Linked DNA regions of Homo sapiens. Each later gene encodes a partner of the first gene's protein in a complex. Links are inferred from orthologs where the notes say so. Each region holds a gene or a part of one and is shown on either strand. Other genes may lie near its edges. The genes, in order: DUSP6 and MAPK1.

What was found.
Region 2: the proteins of DUSP6 (region 1) and MAPK1 are in contact, whole or in part, in a crystal structure (PDB 2FYS), measured with the Rattus norvegicus proteins. The link is inferred for Homo sapiens from one-to-one orthologs. Residues at the interface, in NP_446335.1 of Rattus norvegicus: Arg64, Arg65, Leu66, Gln67, Lys68, Gly69, Asn70, Leu71, Pro72, Val73, Arg74; in NP_446294.1 of Rattus norvegicus: Glu79, Glu107, Thr108, Leu113, Gln117, Leu119, Asp122, His123, Tyr126, Phe127, Gln130, Thr157, Thr158, Cys159, Asp160, Tyr314, Asp316, Asp319.

What each region holds. Positions count from the first base shown.
Region 1 is NC_000012.12:89,349,190-89,357,479, reverse strand, and holds the start of DUSP6 (dual specificity protein phosphatase 6), read left to right. Parts: upstream 1-4,978; 5' UTR 4,979-5,440; coding exon 5,441-5,840; intron 5,841-6,454; coding exon 6,455-6,892; intron 6,893-7,918; coding exon 7,919-8,226; 3' UTR 8,227-8,290. Other genes in the region: POC1B-DUSP6 readthrough, read left to right, coding at 7,919-7,990. UniProt on the Homo sapiens protein: Dual specificity protein phosphatase, which mediates dephosphorylation and inactivation of MAP kinases. Has a specificity for the ERK family. Plays an important role in alleviating chronic postoperative pain.
Region 2 is NC_000022.11:21,800,736-21,809,047, reverse strand, and holds part of MAPK1 (mitogen-activated protein kinase 1), read left to right. Parts: intron 1-1,201; coding exon 1,202-1,384; intron 1,385-3,008; coding exon 3,009-3,198; intron 3,199-8,312. UniProt on the Homo sapiens protein: Serine/threonine kinase which acts as an essential component of the MAP kinase signal transduction pathway. MAPK1/ERK2 and MAPK3/ERK1 are the 2 MAPKs which play an important role in the MAPK/ERK cascade.

The DNA.
Region 1 (8,290 bases):
CTCAATAAGCCCTTGCAGCTCCTCATCATGGGGCAAGCTGCACGGAGCTTCCACGTGAGAAGCAGTTTGATTGCAAACCTGGATCTGCAATTCCCAGGGGCTGCCCTCATGGAATTTTAATTGGGGGCTATTTGAAATTCCCTTTGGCTTTCTCACAGCCTATCACTGCCTGTAAGTCATGTTACCTACTGTCAGTTCCTTAGGCTTCTTGTGTTTCTCGGTTGCTACTGTTGTGGTACAACTTCTTGGTATCTTTTAAAAGCACTCATCAGAAGACCTTAGGGACAGTTTTGTGCAACCCATATACATTTTACATTAAGCCATACTATTTCAGGTGTATCCTTCAAATACAGTTAAATTCAGTTTTGAAGTTTTAGCTGCACTGAAAGCCACTGTCACTTTGAGGGCCTACCTGGGACCCCTAAATGCATTTACATTTTAAGTCAGAACTTCCAAAACTCTCCTTATTTGCTGAAAATCTGTTTAACTGTTTTCACATGATGTGTTAATAAATGTCATTGTATTCACAGAGATTATTCCAAGAAGATTAAAGGTCATGCTAGCCCATTTGCATCTTATAAATCTCAAGTGCCCTCAAACTCAGGAAAATTCCTGCAAAAGTGGAATGTTTCTCAAATGGCCTAGAGAAAATTTTATAACCAAAATACACTGCTTTAAAAATTTTTTTTTTTTAACTAACAATTTTTAAGGAACTTTCCAGGGGGAAACACCAGGAGGAATTCAAGCACAAGCACAGGTGCTCGGTGCACACATACATACACACACACACACACACACACACACAGAGGAAGAAACAAGAATCTATGAAAGTGCTTCTCTGCACTCATGAGAATGGATCACAGATGATCTGCTATCTCCAATTTTTAAATACAGACCTCTTCATATGAATGATATCCTCTGAAGGGCACTGAGGCCTCTGGAATTAAGGAAGCCTGTAATTCTTCCAACTACTACAGCCCTTATCTCCTAAGAGAGCTTTTCCTCAGTGCCTCACAGGAATGGCAATATCACCACCAACAGCATTCCTTATGCAGGAATGAAGTGGTGATATTTTAAAAATCATCTTCTGAATACCGACTTTGTGCCCTACACTTCTCGTGTGTCATCTCAGTTGTGTCTAATCCTCACAGTCCTTTGAGGGAGGAATATATATTCCCAATGTTACACACTTCCGAATTCCTTTTCTTGCTTTTTCTCTATAGCGCTTTCACTTTCTAATATATAATTATTTGTTTTGTTAATTGGACTGTCCTCATTAGAATGTAAACTTCAGTGAGGCAGGTTATTGTTGTCTGTTTATTCTCTACTGCTTTCCTGGAATCTAGAATAAATGCATCAATGAATGAATGAAGTGAGGCCCAGACTACTACTGAGTGACAGAGGTTTGAACCTAGGCTTATGTGCTGTGCTGACGCACTAGATAACCAATGACACTTGTGAAGATTAGGATCTAGGGCATATTCTAAGAGAGATAAAATATGCAACATTTAGTGAATGTTTGACTGATGAAGGGTTGCGTGCAAAGAAAACCACTGGTGTGTAAAAGGAGCAGGGAAAGCAGCCTCGCTTTTGATCTTTGACATGGAGGATGCAACAGAAAACGTGAGGCTGGAGAAAGCCTGGAGGTCAAAATTCAAAATGCTGACCTTGAAATTCTTCACATGTGGGCAGGGAATACCACGTGGAGGTGAATATAGTGTCCATAACACTCTATGTAATCCGTGCATGTGGGCATCCTTAAGAGTCTGTAAAGGGTTTGGCCTCACGTCTTGACACTCTGTTGCTACTGTGTGCCCTTGGGCAAATTCTTTAATCTTTGTAAATGGGATAATTTACATGTTTTTTCTGAAGACTGTCCGAAATTATGCAAGTAAACACAGAAACAAGACGGTACCCATCATGCAGTTAAGTGCCCAATATGCATTGTTGTATCAGTTTGCTGTGGCTGGAGAACAGCGTGTTCCAAAGGTGACCAGTAGGGAGAAATCAGAAATGTAGCTGGGTCCATTCTGATAACTGTGCTAAAGGATTTTTGATCCTGGTCTACGATAACACCCCCTTTACTTGACAGCTGAATTGGAACGGATTAAATCGGTTAGGGTAGTATCTCAGAGGGCTTTGCTGCAGATGAGCGAGTCCAGGCGGGCTGTCAAGCGAGCCTCAAGGGGCATCTGTGGGATGCCCAAACCGTGTCCCCAAGCCGAGGCCTTTTTACAGGTCCTCAATTCAGAATGAAAAATTAATTCCAACGGCTAATAGCACCCCACCACCACTTTAGGACGTTTCACCGTACCCATTTTGTCGTCACAGGGACCCTATGAAGCAGATAGTTTTATCTTCGTTATGCCGACGTGGAAGACTGCAACTTAGAACGGCTAAATGATTTAACTAAGGGCGCTTACCTAGGAAGAAGCGGGGGACATAATGCAAACGAGGGCCGTCCCACTCCAGAAGCCCTTTTCGCAGCATTTCTAGTACTGAGCAGTCAGAACGCCACTTTAATCAATGCGCCAGGAAACACTGGCATTCCCTTGGCGATAAAGTTCAGAAGCATGGGTAAAACTACAGTTTCGATGTATCCTCCCGAATCTATAGTCATACTCAAGTAGCTGCGTATTAAAACAGGCAAAGTAGAAACCCAACTTCCCTCCCTTTCTCTTCTGTTGGAGGTCCTGTGCTGAACCTCCAACAGGTTTGCTCTTCTCAGTTCCGCTGAAGGGCATCCTGCCTCTTCCCTCCCTGTCCCCAGGTCCCAATGACTGAAACGTCTCGGGGTGGGAACTTCTGTGACAGATCGTGGAGGACAGGGGGAGTCAACTCCAGCGCAGGCCTCCCCCGGCTGAAACTAGAAGATACCCAGTGAAATATACGAGTTTTGTTCCAAGGACTGCCCAAAAATGGTGCGGAGAGGAGCTCGGCAATCCCCACCTTTGTCGAACACGCTCCTCCAGGGGCGGCCTGCCTGAAGCAGAGCTCCAAAATTGGCAACCTAGGCCTCGCAGCCGCCTTTTTTTAGCCTACATTTCCCAAACCAGGGAAGAGGCGGGTGACTAAAAATGCAAATTGCAGCGGGGGTGTTAGCAGGCATGCCCGTGGGTGCGGGGCGTCGGGCGAAGGGAGACCCCGCGACCTTAGGCGCCCTCGCGGTGTTCACGGTAGGCGCAAAGCGCAGCAAGGGACACTCCCCAAAGCCGCACCCCGCCGGACGGCTGCCCCCGCTTCCGCCTCTCAGGCAGCGGTGGGACAAAGCGCGGCCTCTTTTCCGCCGGGGTTTAGGGAGGGAAGGCCGGATTAGGGCCCGCGCCTTCCGGCTGCATCCCTCTCGCGCCGCGCCGGCCGCACACAGGTGGTTTTCCGCTCGGGAGGGGCAGGCTTCGGCACTTTTATATAACAATAGAGCTCTGCGCGCCGGGAACGCGCCTCCCCGCCGCCGCGGCCCCCACCCGGCCACGCCTCCATCCGGCTTCCAATCCGTCCGCCCCGCGGCGCCTGGGCCGAGTGCTGCTCGCTGGCCTGGCCCGCACCTCCCCAAAGTTACCTGCTGGCTTTGCAGCGCGGTAGAGACGTTCCCCTCGACTCCTTGGGAGCGAGGAGCCAGGGGGGTCCCGGCAGGCACTCGTCCTTGCTCCCCCCACCCTCCCCAGATCTCTATGGACCCGGGAGTCCCTCGCTGAGCCCCGCACCCGTCCACTGCGTCGCGCACAGCCCCGTGCCCAAGCGGGGAGACGGGGACGGCGGGGCGGTGGCAGGGAGCGCAGCGCGCAGGCGCGGCTGGTGCTCCCCGGAGTGCCCGGCGCTGGACAAAGGGAGGAGGCGGCGGCAGGAGAGGGCTGGGGAGGCCCCCTCTGACATGCCTCCCTGCCAACTGTAACCAATCGTCGAGCCCCCCTGCCGAGCCCCCGCAGCCTGCAGGTCTTGCGGGAGGACTTCCTCACGCCTCGCCCATGGCGGGGACTGCTGGCCCGGCCCGGCGCGTCCCAGCACACCTCGCTCAGGCAGCCCCGCCAGACCGGCTCCCCCGTCAGAAGCCGAGCTCCTTGCCCAGAAATCATTAACCAGCGCGACCTCCCAGCAGGCGATGGTGGTGGTGGGGCGGGGGGAGAGATATAGATTCCCCCGAACAATGGCTTGTAACTCCCCACGCCGCCGGAGCGGAATACAGTAAAAGCACTGGACTGACCTAAGAGTTTGTTTCTGCACTCTACATTGTTTTAATGAAAATAAAATGTTATTTTAAGAAAAAAGGTTTTCTTCTGATTTTCTGCACAACCAGACGTTTGTTTGTTTGCTTTAAAATGTTTCAACAAAATCCTGGTTTGTTTCGAAATATGTTGGATTAGCATTTAACACCTCATCGGTCACTAAAGCCCAGTCAGTTCACCAGCCCCAACACAGCCTCGGCTAAAAGAACATCAGAGCAAACAGAGCTGGGCCTTTAAAAGTGGCAAACAAATGCCACACACCGCCTAAAGAAGGGGGGTTGGGGGAGGGGAGGGTTAAGGCGAACTTGGGTCCAAATGAGTTTGAAGGGAATACAAAGAACGAAAAGTCAGCACAAGTTTTCCTAAAGCTAGCTCGCGAACGCAAGCGTCGCGAACAAGGGCTTTTGTGCATGCTAATTGCGCCATTGGTGCGCAAAAGTTCCGACGCGAAGTGTGAACTCTCAACAGAAGGAAACATGAGACAACTGAAGTGCCCTGGTTTATGTGCCCTGCTCCTCCTCCGCTGCCGCCTCCCCTTCTTTCTCCTTCCTCCCGCCGAGCCCGCTGTTGCAGCTTGTTTGCACTGGGGCTTATCCGGAGCGGAAATTCCTTTCCGTTTTTGTGAATGACAAACTCATTAACAATTCATCAACACAACCTGTTCCAGCCGGCCCGTCCCCACGGCAACAGCCCCTTCCGCAGCACGCTCATTGGCTGGCCCGGAGAATGTATCCATTGAGACGCTCGCTGTTTGTATCCATTGAGGAGCTGCCTCGCGCAGGGGGTGTGCGAGGCTGAGTCCAAGAGATAGCAAATCGAGTCTTAAATAATCCGGGGAGAAAGACGCCCGGGTAGATTTGAGGTGCAGCCTTGGAGGGAGGGATTAGAAGCCGCTAGACTTTTTTTCCTCCCCTCTCAGTAGCACGGAGTCCGAATTAATTGGATTTCATTCACTGGGGAGGAACAAAAACTATCTGGGCAGCTTCATTGAGAGAGATTCATTGACACTAAGAGCCAGCGGCTGCAGCTGGGTGCAGAGAGAACCTCCGGCTTTACTTCTGTCTCGTCTGCCCCAACCGCTAGCCTCGGCTTGGGTAAGGCGAGGCGGAATTAAACCCCGCTCCGAGAGCGGCAGCTTCGCGCGCGGTGCGCTCGGCCTATGCCTGCCCCGAGGGGCGTCTGGTAGGCACCCCGCCCTCTCCCGCAGCTCGACCCCCATGATAGATACGCTCAGACCCGTGCCCTTCGCGTCGGAAATGGCGATCAGCAAGACGGTGGCGTGGCTCAACGAGCAGCTGGAGCTGGGCAACGAGCGGCTGCTGCTGATGGACTGCCGGCCGCAGGAGCTATACGAGTCGTCGCACATCGAGTCGGCCATCAACGTGGCCATCCCGGGCATCATGCTGCGGCGCCTGCAGAAGGGTAACCTGCCGGTGCGCGCGCTCTTCACGCGCGGCGAGGACCGGGACCGCTTCACCCGGCGCTGTGGCACCGACACAGTGGTGCTCTACGACGAGAGCAGCAGCGACTGGAACGAGAATACGGGCGGCGAGTCGGTGCTCGGGCTGCTGCTCAAGAAGCTCAAGGACGAGGGCTGCCGGGCGTTCTACCTGGAAGGTACGCGCCCAGGGAACTCCGCGCGCGGGGCAGGGCTAGGGGCGCAGGGCTGCGGGCGGGGCGCGTGGATTGAAAATACCTCTGCTCCGCTCAGCTGGAGCTTCGGAGCCGCGCTGCCCGCCTAGGGACCGGCAGCCGGCGAGGTAGGGGCCGCGAACCGCGCGTTCCGCACCAGAGAACCGGGCCGGCTCAGAATCCACTCGCTTCCGGCTGCGGGTACCGGCGGTTTCTTTCTAACGGGTTCTGCGCCTTCTTAGCCAGAACATCCTCCACCATCACCCTGTTTTCTATCGTTCGATTTTGAATTAAGATTTGCAGGACGGGAGAGATTGTTGGGGATGCAAATTGGCACATCTTAGCTCTCAAAATATTCCAAAAAGTTGCCATTTTGTCTATTTCCGGATTCAAGCGAATAAGGGTTCCCTGGCGAGGCGGGCCCGTTCGTTCCATTCCCGATGGTGCACATTTAAAGTGTGTTTCTCTTATAGATGGTTCTGTATGTAGGGGGTTCGTAGGATGCTTGTGGTGTTTCTTGCGCCGGGCTGCGGTTCTTACAAGCTGTGAAAACTACTACGGCTTCTCAGGTTAGATGATTGCTTTTCTCGTTCTGGCAGGTGGCTTCAGTAAGTTCCAAGCCGAGTTCTCCCTGCATTGCGAGACCAATCTAGACGGCTCGTGTAGCAGCAGCTCGCCGCCGTTGCCAGTGCTGGGGCTCGGGGGCCTGCGGATCAGCTCTGACTCTTCCTCGGACATCGAGTCTGACCTTGACCGAGACCCCAATAGTGCAACAGACTCGGATGGTAGTCCGCTGTCCAACAGCCAGCCTTCCTTCCCAGTGGAGATCTTGCCCTTCCTCTACTTGGGCTGTGCCAAAGACTCCACCAACTTGGACGTGTTGGAGGAATTCGGCATCAAGTACATCTTGAACGTCACCCCCAATTTGCCGAATCTCTTTGAGAACGCAGGAGAGTTTAAATACAAGCAAATCCCCATCTCGGATCACTGGAGCCAAAACCTGTCCCAGTTTTTCCCTGAGGCCATTTCTTTCATAGGTGAGACTAATTAATAGTCGTCGCTCTGACATTTAAATGCAAAATTCCTAGCCATTCATAGAGTTTAAGCTGTTAATCGTTCTTGCTGCTTGCTAATTTGTCTGACTGCAGGTCTCTAATGTTCCTAGAGCGTCCTTAATTCTGGTTTATCTTCTTGCTAAAGGAAGAAAACCTGCCTTTTGACATGGCTGCAGATCACAGGTGTATTTGAAACGCTGTTTCTTGAATCTTTGAATTCAGTCATTGACAGTCGTTCATAATCGGACAACAGATTTTTCCCCCCAGTCTTTGGACTCAGGGGAAGGGTCAGATAGAAGTACTCACTATAGACAGGAATTCCAGCATTGCTTTATAATTTAAAAACATCTAGGAGTTATTTTAGGACATCAAGTTAGTTGTTGGAAAGCAGTATGAATGCTGAATGTTATCCAGTTGAATGATGCGGTGATACTGGTAACAGTGAGACAGTGGGTAACCTGAGCCCAGCAGGAAGAACTGTGGGCTGGAAGCCTGGGAGAAGTGAATCTCCAGGCATTGTAATGCATTTCCTATTACAAAGGAACTCATTTTCAGGCCGTGTCGACATCCTGTTCCTCCTAATGGGCCGTCCCCTGTGACTTCCCTCTCTCTTTTAAAATGCCTGAATACCTCCATTGTTAGCTGCACAACATTTGGAGCATAATTTAATAGACCCTTGCAGTCTGGTTGTCTGTGTAAAAGGCATTCACGAACATATTGCAGGGTTTCTGGTATTCACATGCCGAGGCAAAGAATGCACCCATTAAGGAGTTTTTTGTTGGCAGAAACTTAATACAAAAGCTCTCTTTTCAGAAAATATCTGAAATATGTAATTGTGTCCAGTGTACATGTTTCATTTCAGTGATACATTTTCTGCTGCTTGTAGGGCTCAACTGCCACACACAACTATTATTATTATTATGTTTTCAAGTTCAGTTTTTAGACTGATCATTCACAAAGGGTGGTTTTCAGTCTGCTGAGATCTTGCTTTTCTTTTTGTGTTCACAGATGAAGCCCGGGGCAAGAACTGTGGTGTCTTGGTACATTGCTTGGCTGGCATTAGCCGCTCAGTCACTGTGACTGTGGCTTACCTTATGCAGAAGCTCAATCTGTCGATGAACGATGCCTATGACATTGTCAAAATGAAAAAATCCAACATATCCCCTAACTTCAACTTCATGGGTCAGCTGCTGGACTTCGAGAGGACGCTGGGACTCAGCAGCCCATGTGACAACAGGGTTCCAGCACAGCAGCTGTATTTTACCACCCCTTCCAACCAGAATGTATACCAGGTGGACTCTCTGCAATCTACGTGAAAGACCCCACACCCCTCCTTGCTGGAATGTGTCTGGCCCTTCAGCAGTTTCTCTTGGCAGCATC
Region 2 (8,312 bases), on another chromosome or scaffold:
ACTTTATTTAATTTAGAGACGGAGTCTCACTCTGTCGCCCAGGCTGGAGTGCAGTGGTACAATCTTGGCTCACTGCCACGTGCATCTCCCAGGTTCAAGTGATTCTTGTGCCTCAGCCTCCCAAGTAGCTGGGATTGTAGGCACTTGCCACCATGCCTGGCTAATTTTTTTGTATTTTTAGTAGAGGCGGGGTTTCACCATGTTGTCCAGGCTGGTCTCAAAACTCCTGTCCTCAAGTGATCCAGCCGCCCCAGCTTCCCAAAGTGCTGGGATTGCAGGTGTGAGCCACTGCACCCGGCCCTAGAAGCATAAATTTTAGAATAAAGTTATTTTACTGCTTTCTATTCTAGCACTTACCCCAAGGAAACAAGAAATGTTGTCTTACTGCCTGTCAATGTTATTTGATTGCTTTGGTCAGTGGGCCAGATGTTGACATTTATTAATATGAAAATTTCTTATACACAAGATTGTAATAGAATGTTTATCATAAAGATAGTAGTAATACTCAAGATTCAAATTCATAAAATTGAAGGTATAATTTTTATTATTGCTTTTGCTTATAATTCTGGTTTATCAGACATTAAGGACAACTAGGAAAGAACTGGGCCCCATGTTATTGCCACAAATATGTTTTTTGAAGAATACTTTTCTAGGTTTTGTTATAAAACTACCCAAACATCTTGATTCAGTTTCTTGGGGGAAGAAATGGTCATGTTGTTTTGCAAGTGAGAGAAACAAAGTTAATAGAAGTAATCAAGGTGTTCTCTTGGGTCCATTTTTGTTAGGGATAAAGATGTACAGTTGTAGGTTATTTGAATGTTTCTTCTGTGTCAGAGGAATTTGATACAACAGTAAGAAGGTGTTTCAGAGACAGAAGTGATTACTCTCACCAGAATGCAGTTGCTGTTTAAGACAATGGGAGAATGCTTGTTTGTGTATTTCTGGGTTTATAAAGGCAAGACTTTCACCCAGTTAACAGGGCTAGGTTCTCTGTTAGTTTTGAGAGTCACTGTGTGCTCTCTCATGTCAGTTGCATCCATCCTCCCTAGCTTGAGGCCTTTTTGTGGATAATATACATGCTGCCTTCACGGGTATGAAACAGGTGTTTACACAGTGTTAAAAATATAATACTTTACCAACTTGCCTTCTTCAAATATTCTGAGGGCTGTTTTTAATGCCATCTCTCTCTCTCTTTTTTAAGCTCTGCTTATGATAATGTCAACAAAGTTCGAGTAGCTATCAAGAAAATCAGCCCCTTTGAGCACCAGACCTACTGCCAGAGAACCCTGAGGGAGATAAAAATCTTACTGCGCTTCAGACATGAGAACATCATTGGAATCAATGACATTATTCGAGCACCAACCATCGAGCAAATGAAAGATGTGTATCCTTTTTAGGCAACTGGCCAATTCCACTGCTTGGTAACCTTGTTGAGTAAATAGAACTTGAAATTTCCTGAACTTAAAGGAAAAGTGCATTAAACATGCTAAAGGGAAAATCGTAATCTGTTTGCTATTTACTCCCTAAGTCTAGTCATGGAAAATCTTGGTTAACTCTGTTTGCAGTCATGTTTCTTCTGTCCAAGGGATGGTTTGTTGTGATGATGAAAAGGTAAAGGGAAGATCAGTAGTAGACTAAGAAAGAGGGTGCCCTGGCTATCTACCTGGTGAAATCAGGACTGTCCTGATCTTAAGAGTCAGGTTACCACTTTAGGTCTCAGTTTCCCCACCTTTAAAATGAAGGAACTGGTCGTCATGATCTTTAAGGTCAACTGAGGTCTGAAATTATGTGATTAACTCTGACCAACATTTAGAAATCTGGACTGAACAGATCTAGAGGATGCTGCCTGGGTAAAGGCTCCATTTGAAAGATAGAGAGGTTAAGTATACTGAAGAGGATCTGCCAGAAGGGAAAGGGTTATACAGCACTCCTACCAGTTTACCCAATTTGTATTCCGCCCCTCCAGGGTGCGGGAGCTCGCTGTTTCTAGGCAGCCCTTTCCATTTTTAAACAGCTCTGTTAATAAGTTGTAGTGATATTTGAAGTGAAATGCCTCCTGCCACTACCACCTGTTGGTCCTGCTTTACTTTTTGCCATGAAAATAAGCCTCTCTCAGATGACAGATTTTTAAATCATGTTTCCTTTGAATCCCATGCTGCGCCTCCTATAGCATAAATCTGTAAGAAACAGAGACTAGTGTTTACACAGAAGTGAGTAAAAGAAATGTAGAAATACTGCTAATGAAATAATACTATGATGAAGTTAAAGGCTAAATGCTTTAATAATTTAATTTCTGTGAGAAAGAAAGTAGCCATAGCTAAACTTTTAGGTAGTTAAGTACGTGACCAGGCAAGAAAGCATGAGGAGGAAAACTAGCACAAACCCCTTCTTAGAACGACTTGCCCATAGTCTTACTTATTTAAGATCTTAACAGTAATGGAAGAGTCAAGAAAATAGACTTAGGGTTGGATTTACTAGTAAGAGTATGTTTCTAGACCTGTATTTCTGGAAGTTTTATGTTTGGCTTTTGAGGAGCTTGGGAGAGGAGGGGAGCGGCAACAAGAAGTAAAAAGAATAGTGACATTACAGGTTACTGGACCAAACAGAGGAGGGAGTATCTGCTACTTACAGGCTAACAGTGTTTCCAGCAAACCTTGGAGGGGGTTCGTTGATGGTGGACAATTTAGAGAGCAAAGAGGTTGAGACTTCAAGATTGACCAGAATTTCCCTAACAGCCTGTTTCAGATCTCAGTCTAGGCCCATAGCCGCATCAGTCAGATGTAATGCTGGAATGCCTGCCATCTCACAGGACCTAAAAGGAGTTAACGACTTCAGATTCTTTCCATGAAGGAAACCAAGTTTTCCTCAGTTTCTTCTTTCCTTTAAGGGCTTCATGGTGTAATGATGGACTGTTTGGGAAGAGAGTCAAGAGAGGATGCATTTTTGTTTTCAATGCTTTGCTAAATGTGACCAGCTAATTGGTGTTTTACCTTAACCTGTGCAAACAGATATATAGTACAGGACCTCATGGAAACAGATCTTTACAAGCTCTTGAAGACACAACACCTCAGCAATGACCATATCTGCTATTTTCTCTACCAGATCCTCAGAGGGTTAAAATATATCCATTCAGCTAACGTTCTGCACCGTGACCTCAAGCCTTCCAACCTGCTGCTCAACACCACCTGTGATCTCAAGGTCAGCCAGGTTATTTACTATTAAGGTGATATATATTGAAAAACCCTTTCACTGAAGCATAGTTATATTTGTCATTATTCATATTTTAAATTACACCAGAAATACCCAAAAACATGTTTATGGCAAAAATGCTAATAAAGTGTGGTAGTCCTCTTCTTCTTCCTTATCCCATTGCTCCTTTCTCCCCAGAGATACCTTTTTTTTTTTTTTCTTAAAGACAGAGTCTTAGTATGTTGCCCAGGCCGGTCTGGAACTCCTGGGCTCAAGCAGTCCTCCTTTCTTGGCCTCCCAAAGTGCTGGGATTATGTATGTGGGCCACAGCACCAGGCCGTGATAACTAACTACTATAACAAATTGGTGGCCAGTTGCGGTGGCTCACGCCTGTAATCCTAGCACCTTGGGAGGCCAAGGTGGGCCTTATCACCTGAGGTCAGGAGTTCAAGACCAGCCTGGCCAACATGGCGAAACCCCATCTCTACTAAAAATACAAAAATCAGCCGGGCGTGGTGGCATGCGCCTGTAATCCCAGCTACATGGGAGCTGAGGTAGGAGAACCGCTTGAACCTGGGAGGCGGAGGTTGCAGTGAGCCGAGATCACACCACTGCACGCCAGCCTGGGTGACAAAGCAAAACTCTGTCCTAAAAAACAAAGTGTATTTTCTCCCAAAGTATTTTCTATGCTCTTGCATACATGTGTATTTTTATACTTTATATAGATAAACAGGATCACGTACATTATGTGTTAGTTTTTTTGTTCGTTTGTTTGTTTTTTGAGATGGAGTCTCGCTCTGTCACCCAGGCTGGAGTGCAGTGGCGCGATCTCAGCTCACTGCAAGCTCTGCTTCCCAGGTTCCCGCCATTCTCCTGCCTCAGCCTCCCGAGTAGCTGGGACTACAGGCACCTGCCACCACGCCTGGCTAATTTTTCTTTGTTTTTGTATTTTTGTAGAGATGGGGTTTCACCGTGTTAGCCAGGATGGTCTCAATCTCCTGACCTTGTGATCCGCCCACCTTGGCCTCCCAAAGTGCTGGTATTACAGGCGTGAGCCACCGCGCCTGGCCTTATGTGTTAGTTTTAAAATCATGTTTTGTTGGTGACATTTTTCTTCAATAAATTTTATTCAAAAGATAGCAGCAGAAAACTTAACGTCACTGACTTTAATACCTAATAAGGCATTCCAACTAAATAAGAAAACCCCAAATTCTTTACAGTCCTCAGAGTTCTGAAAATATGCAGCATTTACATATTTCTGTTTTAATGGGTGTTACAGGTAAACGAGGGAAATTTATGGATATCTTAGATGTGACGGAGCGATGTCGATTCAGTCTAAAAAAATGCACAGGAATTCAAGAAGACCTAAATAAATGGGAAGGCATCCCATGTCTGTGGATCATAAGACTTAATACTGTTAAGATGGCAGTATTCTCCAAATTGATTTGCAGATTTAGTGCAATCCCTATCAAAGCCCCCAGTTGTTTTTTTCTGTAGAAATTGACAGGCTGATCCCAAAATTCATATGGAAATTCATATGGAGAACTGATACACTTCCTGATTTCAAAACTTACTGCAAAACACAGTAATCAAGACAGTGTGCTACTGGCATAAGAATAGACATATAGGTCAGTGGAATAGAAGTGAGAGTCAGTAAATAAACCCGTGTATCTATGGTCAACTGATTTTTGGCAAGGATGCCAGGACCATTCACTGGGGAAAGAATAGTCTTTTCAGCAAATGAATCTGGGACAACTGAATAGCCACATACAAAAAGATGAAAAAATTAACTCAAAATGGCTGGGTGCAGTGGTTCGCGCCTGTAATCCCAGCACTTTGGGAGGCCAAGGCCTGTGGATTGCCTGAGCTCCGGAGCAAGACCAGCCTGGGCAACATGGCAAAACCCCATCTCTACCGAAAATACAAAAAAATTAATCTGGGCGTGGTGGCATGTGCCTGTGGTCCCAGCTACTCAGGAGGCTGAGTGGGAGGACTGCTTGAGCCTGGGAGGTGGAAATTGCAGTGAGCAGAGATTGCACCACTGCACTCCATCTGGGGTGACAGAGTGAGACCTTGTCTCAAAAGGAAAAAAAAATTCAAAATGGATTGAAGAACTCAATTAAAAGCTAAAACTTTAATACTCTTAGAAAACATAGAAGTAAATCTTTGCAATCTTATGTTAGGCAAAGCTTCTTAGACATGACACCAAAAGCACAAGCAACAAAAGAAAAAAGTAAGTGGATTCCATCAAGATTAGAAACTTGTGCTACAAAGCAAACCATCAAAAAAGTGAAAAGGCAAGCCACAGAATGAGAGAAGGTATTTGCAAATCATACATCTGATAAGGGACTTAAAACTAGAATATATGAAGAACTCTTATAACTCAATAATGAAAAGATAAATAGCCTAGTTTAAAAAATGGACAAAGGATCTGAATAGACATTTCTCTAAAGAAGATATACAGATGGCAATAAGCACATGGAATGATAGATGCTTGACATCATTAGTCAGTAGAAAAATGCAAATCAAAATTACATTGAAACAACTTCATGCTAACTAGGATGGCTGTAGTTAAAAAGTCAGATAATAAGTGTTGGTGAGGATTCCACTCCTTAGTGAAAATGAAAACATGCATCTATACAAAAACTTGAACACAAATCTTCATAGTGGTATTGTTCACTATAGCCAGTAAGTAGAAACAATCCAAATGTCCAGCTGATGATGAATAAATACAGTGTGGTGGATCCACACAGTAGAAGAGAAAGGAGTGAAGTACTGATAATGCTACAACATGGATGAATCTTGGAAACATGTCTGTGAAGGAAGGCAGCCACAGAAGACACATATTGTATGATTCTGTTTACGTGAAATGTCTAGAATAGGCAAATCCATAGAGACAAAAATTAGAATTAGTGGATTACTGATTGCCTAGGGCTAGAGGAGTTGGGAGAATAAAGAAGGAAGGAATACTAACTCACTGGAATTTCTTTTTGAGGTTATAAAAATATTTTCAAATTGGATGGTGGTAATGGTTAATTTCCACCATTATAATACTAAAACCATTGAGTTATACACTTTAAATGAGCAAATTGTATGGTGTGTGAATTATAGGTTAATAAAGCTGCTTAAGTACATATATATGTATAGCAATAATCATTTATTGGATTTCAGTTCAACAGACACTCCTATGAGAAGCCCTTTGAGATACGCCAGACAAGAGAGATGAGGGTCTGCCCTTGAAATCTGAAAACTGATAGATCAGAAATCTGGTAGACAGTAGGTGATTATAATGAGATGTTCTGTAACTGAGATGGAGAAAAAGATGGTGTACAAATGCAAAGGAGAGAGGTGGGCTAGCGCTGGCTGGGACTGGGAGGCAGCAGGAAGAAGGTGGTATCTGTGCCGGCCCTCGAGGTTGGGTAGCTTTTCTTGCGGGAGGCCAGTGGCTCTATTGGACATAGGGTATCATAGGCAGAGAGTACAGAAATAAAATAAGAAGGAAGGGACTACTACCGAAAGCACTGAGTCTTCCTCCCTGTGGCTGCAGCATTGGATGAGTAATAGGGAGTCATCGACACTAAGCTAAAAAGGTTGGTTGCAAGTAGATCGTGGGGAACCTTCTAGAACTGTGTGTAAAAAGCGGTGGGTTTTGTCACGGTGGGTGAACACGGTGGCCAATGTCCAGTGAGATGTAAAGGACAGCTTCCTTCATCAGATATTGTGTGGATTGGACTCTGTCCCCTCTTAGGATCCTTCTGATACAGGTTTATGTCTTTTCCACATGGGATGGAACCAGCTCCTTTACCTGGATCAGTGCAACCAAGAGTCAGGTGGGCACAAAACGAATAAAGCTATGTTTAGGATGGCTGTACTACTTCTTTGGCACTTAATGATTGTCTTGAAAATTTGCAGTGAATATTTTTATGTCTCCTCGTGTTTTTTTTTTCTTTTGGTTATCATCATAGCCCTGTTATGGCAGATTGCTTTTGTTTTTGGAGAGACATTCTCAATCAATATTTTAAGCATATAACATTTCTGGGAAGAATTGGCTCTTATTTTTGCTTGAAAGTGTTCATCTTTAAGAATAAAACAAATAGAACCAGACTACTCTCTCTGTTGTCTCTTCCCAGTTTATGGACTTGTCTTTAAGGCCATTCTGTTCACCTACTCACACTCACACACACGAGTTGTTGGCCGTGGCATAATTTAGGCATCGTCTTGAAAACCCAAGTTAACACAAAGAATCAGAAGCATAACAAATTGACTAACATTTTATTTTATTTTATTTTATTTTTATTTTATTTATTTTTATTTTTATTTTATACTTTTTCGAGATAGAGTCTTGCTCTGTTGCCCAGGAGTACAGTGGCATGATCTCAGCTCACTGCAACCTTCACCTCCTGGGTTCAAGCAATTCTCCTGCTGAAGCTTCCTGAGTAGCTGAGATTACAGGTGCCCACCACCATGCCTGGCTAATTTTTGTATTTTCAGTAGATACGGGGTTTCACCATATTGGCCAGGCTGGTCTCGAACTTCTGATCTCGTGATCCGCCCGCCTTGACCTCCCAAAGTGCTGGGATTCTACAGGCATTTGCCACCACACCCGGCCTTTACTGATATTTTAAAAGTATACAGCAGTCAGGTGCCATGGCTCACGCCTGTAATCCCAACACATTGAGTGGCTGAGGCAGGCGGATCGCCTGAGGTCAGGAGTTCAAGTCCAGTCTGACCAACTTGGTGAAACCCTGTCTCTACTGAAAATACAAACAAATTAGCTGGGTGTGGTGGCGCACACCTGTAATCCCAGCTACTTGGGAGGCTGAGGCACGAGAATCAGTGGGAGGCAGAGGTTGCAGTGAGCTGAGATGGCACCACTGCACTCCAGCCTGGGCAACAGGGTGAGACTCCATCTCAGAAAAAAAAAAGTATACAGCAATGTGTGTGCATCATTCTCATGGGTATAAATGCGAGAAGAGAGAATCTCATTCAAAGATGAGTATGGTATGTCACTGATTTGTTACAGTGAGCGTGTCAAAGCAGGGCAAGAGGCAGTGGCAGTTCAGTGTGCATATGACAGTTGAGAACACCACATGAGGAGAGGACTTGTGTTTGCTGGAGCTCTG